Linked DNA regions of Homo sapiens. The protein of the gene in region 1 interacts with the protein of each later gene in a pairwise test. Each region holds a gene or a part of one and is shown on either strand. Other genes may lie near its edges. The genes, in order: NMRAL1 and ASS1.

Region 1 (3,808 bases):
AACTCCTGACTTCAAGTGATCTGCCCGCCTCGGCCTCCCAAAGTGTGGGGATTACAAGCATGAGCCACTGTGCCCAGCTGATTTCTATGGTTTTAAGCCACGTGGATTGTGGTCCTTTTTCGTGACAGTACCAGGAAGCCCACAGGGAATCATCAGGATTAGAAATAAGATCTGCTGGGCTGGGCGCAGTGGCTCATGCCCGCAGTCCCAGCACTTTGGGAGGCCGAGGCAGGCGGATCGCCTGAGGCCGGGAGTTAGAGACCAGCTTGACCAACATGGAGAAACCCCGTCTGTACTAAAAATACAAAAAAATTACCAGGGCATGGTGACGCATGCATGTAATCTCAGCTATTCGGGAGGCTGGGGCAGGAGAATAACTTGAACCCAGGAGGCGGAGGTTGCGGTGAGCCAAGATTGCGCCATTGCATGCCAGCCTGGGCAACAAAAGCGAAACTCGGCCTCAAAAAATAAAGAAAGAAATAAGATCAGCTCAGGGCCGGGCATGTGGCTTACGCCTGTAATCCCAGCACTTTGGGAGGCCGAGGTGGGCGGATCACCTGAGGTCAGGAGTTCAAGACCAGCCTGGCCAACATGGTGAAACCCCGCCTCTACTAAAAATACAAAAATTAGTTGGGTGTGCTGGTACACACCTATAATCCCAGCTACTCGGGAGGCTGAGGCAGAAGAATTGCTTGAATCTGGGAGGCAGAGGTTGCAGTGAGCCGAGATCACCCCACTGCACTCCGGCCTGGGCGACAGAGCAAGACTCAGTCTCAAAAAAAAAAAAAAAAAAAAGATCTGCGTTAATCAGAGAAGTTGTCTTTGTCTGCTCTATATAATGGGCTTCTAGGTAAGACCATAATTGAAGAAAGGGTCAAGGCTAATAACAAGTTTGGATGGGTACACGTGGACATGAAGGCAACAACAGACACTGGGAACCACGGGAGGGAGGGAGGCAAGGGTTGAAAACCTACCTACTGGGTACTGTGCCCACTACCTGGGTGACAGGTCCAGTCACACCCCAGACCTCAGCATCACTCAATATACCAATGTAACAAACCTGTGCATGTACCCCTGAATCTAAAATAAAAGTGGAAATTACTTTTTAAAAAAAACTTCTAACATTTTTGATTAAAAAAAAAAAAAACAAACGAACAGGCCAGGCGTGGTTGCTCACGGAGACTGAGACGGCCTCAAACAAACAAAAAAAAAGTAATTGGATGAGAAAGCAACAGCGTCCACCTGCTTCACAGCCTAGAGCAGGCAGAGGCATGAAGAAGAGGGAAAGGCCTGCAGTGCTCCAACCTCCCTGCAGAGTCGGAGCTCCTCCCAGGCGCTCTGCTCCTAGCCTGGCCGGGCCTCCCTGCAGCTCCTGCCTGCCCTCACCTGCTTGACCTCCTGCTCCTGGCTGCAGCTCTCCCAGTAATTGGTCACGATGAAGGTGGCGTAAGCCCCATTCAGGGCCAGCTCCATGATGACCTGGTCATCTTGGTCTCCCTGCACTACTTCTGCACCTTGCAGCCTCAGCTCCTTTGCTGCCTTCTTCCTAGGGTTTCGGGTCACCACTCGAACCTTGAATGTCCCATCTTCCAGGAGTGTGCGGGCCACGGAGCCACCCTGGGCACCTACAAAGAATCAAAAAGACCTCTCAGGTCAGACCTACCTGAAAGTCCCACTGAAGGGCGAAACCCCGAAGGGAGTGCTCCACCACAGCAAGGAGCATCCAGGAAACCTTCTCAACGACGATTCTCATTCAGGTATTTTTATTTTCTTTATTTTATTTTTTTGAGATGGAGTCTCACTCTATCACCCAGGCTGAAGTGCAGTGGCACGATCTTGGCTTGGTGAAACCCCGCCTCTATCAAAAAATACAAAAATTAGCTGGGTGTGAAGGCACATGCCTGTACTCCCAGCTACTCAGGAGGCTGAGGCACGAGAATTGCTGGAACCCAGGAGGCGGAGGTTGCAGTGAGCTGAGATTGCGCCACTGCACCACAGCCTGGGTGACACAGCGAGAATCTGTATTAAAAAAAAAAAAAAAAGGCCAGGCATGGTGGCTCACGCCTGTAATCACAGCACTTTGGGAGGCCAGGCCGAGTGGATCACCAGGTAAGGAGACCGAGACCATCCTGGCTAACACAGTGAAACCCTGTCTCTGCTAAAAATACAAACTTAGCCGGGCGTGGTGGCACCCGCCTGTAGTCACAGCTACTCAGGAGGCTAAGGCAGGAGAATCGCTTGAACACAGGAGGCGGAGGTTGCAGTGAGCCCAGATCACGCCACTGCACTCCAGCCTGGGTGACAAAGTGAGATTCCCTCTCAAAAAAAAAAAAAAAAAAAAAAAAAGGGCCTGGTGCAGTGGCTCACACCTGTAATCCTAGCACTTTGAGAGGCCGAGGGGGGTAGATCACCTGAAGTTGGGAGTTTGAGAACAGCCCGACCAACATGGAGAAACCACTGTCTCTACTAAAAATACAAAATTAGCTAGGCGTGGTGGCACATGCCTGTAATCCCAGCTACTCGAGAGGCTGAGGCAGGAGAATCGCTTGAACCCAGGAGGCAGAGGTTGCGGTGAGCCGAGATCGCGCCATTGCACTCCAGCCTGGGCAACAAGAGCGAAACTTGGTCTCAAAAAAATAAAGGTAAAAATATTTGTGATGTAATAAAGTAAAAAAAGTAGAATACAAAACCATATTCAGGCTGGGTGCAGTGGCTGTAATCCTAGCACTTTGGGAGGCTGAGACAGGTGGATCACGAGGTCAGGAGCTCAAGACCAGCCTAGCCAAGATGGTGAAACCCCGTCTCTACTAAAAATAAAAAAATGAGGCCGGGTGCAGTAGCTCACAACTGTAATCCCAGCACTTTGGGAGGCCGAGGCGGGCGGATCATGAGGTCAGGAGATCGAGACCATCCTGGCTAACACGGTGAAACCCTGTCTCTACTAAAAATACAAAAACTTAGCCGGGCGTGGTGGCGGGCGCCTGTAGTCCCAGCTACTCGGGAGACTGAGGCAGGAGAATGGCATGAACCCAGGAGGTGGAGCTTGCAGTGAGCCGAGATCGCGCCACTGCACTCCAGCCTGGACGACAGAGCAAGACTCCGTCTCAAAAAAAAAAAAAAATTAGCTGGGCATGGTGGAGCCTGTAATCCCAGCTACTTGGGAGGCTGAGGCAGGAGAATCGCTTGAACCAGGGTGGCAGAGGTTGCAGTGAGCCGAGATTGGGCCACTGCACTCCAGCCTGGGTGACACAGTGAGACTCTGTCTCAAAACAAAAGAAAAAACCATATTCAGATCTTGATGGGATTTGAATTCTTCCTGAAGTAGAATATAAAGCCATATTCAGATACACAACCATATTCAGATCTGCTCAAAAACGAGACAAAGAAAAATAGTTAACAGAAAGGAATACAAAAACTTATTCAGATCTCGATGGAGCTTGAGTCACACAGGCATGCGCATCGGTCAGATGTACCCTTAAGATTTTGCGCGTTGCAGCTGGGCCCAGGGGCTCATGCCTGTAATCCAGACACTTTGGGAGGCTGAGGCACGCAGATCTCTTGAGCTCAGGAGTTTGAGACCAGCCTGGGCAACATGGTGAAACCATATCTCTACAAAAAAAAACCAAAAATTAGCTGGGCGTGGTGGCATGTGCCTGTAGTCCCAGCTACCAGGGAGGCTGAGGCTGGAGGAAAGCCTGAACCCAGGAGGTTGAGGCTGCAGTGAGCCGTGATCACACCACTGCACGCCAGCCTGGGTAACAGAGTAAGGCCCTGTCTCCAAAAAAAAAAAAAAAAAAAAATTCTTTAT
Region 2 (3,808 bases), on another chromosome or scaffold:
CTGGGGTCTCCCATCTGCCCTGGGGCACCCATACAGATGGTGCCATTTACAAAACTCTCGCTCCCCGGCTAGAGTCTCAGAATCATATTTCCAGGCCCCTCTTCCAAAACTAGGGGGAGAGAGGAGCCCCGCAAGGGCCACCCCAGCTTCGGTGCAGCTCTCTGGGTGGGCAGGGGTGGGGCTGGCAGCAGGGCATGGGAGGGGAGAGTGCGGCTCAATTTCTGCACCAGGTGCTGTCTGGACGGGGTGCTGGGAAGGGAGGCTGCCTCCGCCTCTGCCTTCAGGGCTGGGCTCAGGCGGTTCCAGCAAACAGGATGCCCTTCCCCCTCACATCCCAGGCCAATCCGTTGTCCCCCCAACATTTCACTGTCACCTTCCCTGAGCCCAAAGACCCGAAAGCCTCCACCTGGCCCGTCCCCCGTGATGGCGCCCGGGGCAGTGCTGGGTGGATACTCATGGGATGGTGGTGCTGGGTGGTTACTCAGGGGGTAAATGCCTGAAGGCTGGACCAGCACCTCCAAGGCCTTGGATTCCCCTCGCTCCCAGCCTTCCTGGTTCTCCACTCATACCCCCAGTTCTCGGAAATTGTCTCCAGAGGCTGTTGGGGGTTTCCTGGGTACTGTCATAAAGGGACACTGAGGCGCAGAAGTACGCCTTGCCTGTCAACCCCAGGAAAGAGGTGGCTGTGCCAGGTAGCACCTACTCCCCGGCATCCCCGGAGTCCGTCCCTGTTGGGTCTTCTGAGTGTGAATGCAGGGACGCCCCCAAGTCCCGAGCGGCCATAGCACTAGCTTGGGGGGCGTTCTCCTCAGAACCACGCCCTGCAGGTCCAGGATGGGGAACAGAGGACCCCGGTGGTGCCGCCACCTCCTCCCGCCTTTGTCGGCCCCCAAGGCCTCAAACCCAAGCCTCTGGCGCCCTCTGGTGGCCACATGGAGGAGGGGCGCACACGGCTGCGGGAGGCTGTTGCAGGCTAAATGTGGGCTGGTCCGGGGTGGGGGTCTCCGCATGGACCCGGGAACTGCCTGAGCCAGAGCCGACCCACCCATACTCACCCACCCACCCATGCACTCCACCAGACCTGAATGCCGCCCTACTGAACCTTAATGGTACCGTTGGAAAGACCTGAGGGCAGGACCCCTCCCAGAATTCTGATCCCCTGCCCTCGGCTTGTATGCCTTCTGGGATAGGAAGCTCACGATCCAGCTCTTTCCATTAAGGCAGATGGGTCGGGAGCTTTTTTTTTTGTTTGGGACAGAGTCTCGCTGTGTCGCCCAGTCCTGATCCTCTGGGTTCTCCTCCTCTGCCACCACCTTTGCACAGATGGCAGCATACACACGGTCCTGCCCAACAGCTCAGGCCCGCCCAAACCTCCTTGCCTGGTTTCCTACCATCCCATCATCCACAGCTGGAGTGACAGTAAAAACCAAGGCCGCAGTCTGTGAGAAGCTCTCCCCTGTCTCTTCCCCAGCATCTCGCTGGGGTAGTCACTGGCCACCTCCATCCAACCTGAGACCTCCTTCCACCCACTAATCAGTTGCCCTCAGGATGAAGCCAAACCTCCCAGCATGGCCTCAGCCCAGTCCTGGCCCTATTGCCTCCCCCACAGCAATAGCTCCTGCTCCACAGCCCCAGACAGACTGTCCTTCAGGGCCTCTTGGCTCTAAGCCTTTCCACAGGCTGTTCCCTCTGCCTCTCACACTCTTCCATGCCATTATTCACTCCTCTAGACTCATCCTCAGCCCCTGCCTGCTGCTCCCGCAGTTCCCTGGCACAGACCCCTGGCCCCACTCCCATTCCTCATCACACATCCATTTTCTCTTCTCTTGCCAGGAAATGGGCTCTCTGAAGGTACGCAATGAGCCCAAGAAGTTAGCACTGTGCCAATGCCAGCAAGCACCCAACTCCCAGCAGATACCCAGTGCAAGCTTGCTGAACCAGTGCTCCGGTGAAGAAATGAACACTTGGACTTTCAAAGACATGACAGGTGCCATCCTGGTGGGTGGCTGTCTCCCAGGCCACCCTCAAATCAACCGCGTCTCCTCCATCATCATCTTAGCTGTGTGTGTCCCTGCACCACAGTGAGCCAGGACCTCCCACAGTGAGCCAGGACTTCCCACCATCAGCACCCTGACCAGCCCGGGCAGGCGAGGTAGTGAGCTCCCCGTCACTGGGGAGTTTCCGAGCCTTCTGACTGTGGGGTTGGTAAACAGTCAATTCCTGTACCAGGCTCTTGGCATGCTGTCCGCTGACTGAGAGCTCATGACTTGGGTCTTTATAAAAACATCGGCTGACAGTTGCCAACATTGTCAGGAATCTGGTTTCTCAAGGACTGCCTTCCGAAGAGCAGCAGGCAGGGGGCTTCCTGTCTTGCACCCCACGGGGACCCCGCAGTCTGCACTGGGACACACGGCCCGGAGGGAAGGGGTACGGGATGGGTTGATTTGTGTTTCCACAAAATAATGGGTTCAAGTCCTAACCCCAGTCCCTCCGAATGTGGCCTCATGTGGTCTTAACAGAAATAACCAAGTTAAGGCTGGGCATGGTGGCCCACGCCTGTAATCCCAGTGCTTTGGGAGGCCAAGGCTGGTGGATCATTTGAGGTCAGGAGTTCAAGACCAGCCTGCCCAACATGGCGAAACCCCGTCTCTACTAAAAATACAAAAAATTAGCCGGGTGTGGTGGGGTACACACCTGTAATCCCAGCTACTCAGGAGGCTGAGGCAGGAGAATTGCTTCAATCTGGGAGGCAGAGGTTGCAGTGAGCCAAGATCGAGCCACTGCACTCCAGCCTGGGCGTCAGAGTGAGACTTTGTCCCTCTCCCCCACACACACACACAAAAAGTAACCAAGTTAAGATGAGGTCATTGAAGGGCCCTAATCCAAGACGGGTTCCTGTAGCAAGGGGAAGGTAAACAGACAAGCAGAGGGAAGACAATGCAGAGATACAGGAAGAAGACAGCTTGGGAAGATGGAGGACGGAAGGACAGGAGTGACGCAGCCACACGCTAAGGGACACCAGAGGCCACTGGAAGCTGGAGAGAGGCCTGAGCCGGAGGCTTCCTGGCACCTTCAGAGGCTGCGTGGCCCTGCCCATGCCCTCACTATGGACCTCAGGCCTCCAGAACCATGAGGCAGAACAGTTCTGTGTTCTAAGCCACCAGTTTGAGACATTTTGTTACCCTCGCCCTGGGAAACTAAGACATGGCATGAGCCCCATCTTGCAAATGAAGAAACTGAGGTTCAGGAAGGGGAGAAGGGCCCTGGCTGAGGACACACGGCAAGCCAGCAGCAGAGCTGCCTTTGAACCCTACTCTGCCAACTCAGGGTTTTCAACACTTTCCTGCGTGTCCCCTGGGGGACTCACGCAGTGACCTTGGCCAATGCGACCTTGGACAATGTCCCCAGGCCTCAGCAGCAAGTCTGCCAAATGGGGTGACATCGCTCCCACAGCAGAAGGTGGAGGTGAGGACTCAGAATGGGCGTTCAGGTGCCACAGTGCACAGAGCGCAGGGGCGAGCTGTTACCCCTCTCATTGGGGTCTAAACAAAGCCATGTAGCTGCCTTGCACCAAGTCTGCCCCGGAGGCACACCAGGAAACCGCTCGAGGGGTGCTCATCTCCTTCCCACACCCCTCCGCCTCCATCTCCCTCTGCCCGGCCCTTCCCAGGTGCCTCACCTTTCCTGTGGCGCCGTGGGACACATACTTGGCCCCCTCCCGCTGGGCGATTTCCACTTGTTTGCGGGCGATGCAGGGCCTGGCAAGAGAGGTGCCCAGGAGGTAGCGGTCCTCATACAGTGCGCTGGA

What was found.
Region 2: the proteins of NMRAL1 (region 1) and ASS1 interact in binary tests that used the Homo sapiens proteins (3 or more experiments, as listed by UniProt).

What each region holds. Positions count from the first base shown.
Region 1 is NC_000016.10:4,467,841-4,471,648, forward strand, and holds part of NMRAL1 (nmrA-like family domain-containing protein 1), read right to left. Parts: intron 3,576-3,808; exon of another isoform or gene 3,474-3,575; intron 1,859-3,473; exon of another isoform or gene 1,754-1,858; coding exon of another isoform or gene 1,664-1,753; intron 1,626-1,663; coding exon 1,387-1,625; intron 1-1,386. UniProt on the Homo sapiens protein: Redox sensor protein. Undergoes restructuring and subcellular redistribution in response to changes in intracellular NADPH/NADP(+) levels.
Region 2 is NC_000009.12:130,458,461-130,462,268, reverse strand, and holds part of ASS1 (argininosuccinate synthase), read right to left. Parts: coding exon 3,680-3,808; intron 1-3,679. UniProt on the Homo sapiens protein: One of the enzymes of the urea cycle, the metabolic pathway transforming neurotoxic amonia produced by protein catabolism into inocuous urea in the liver of ureotelic animals.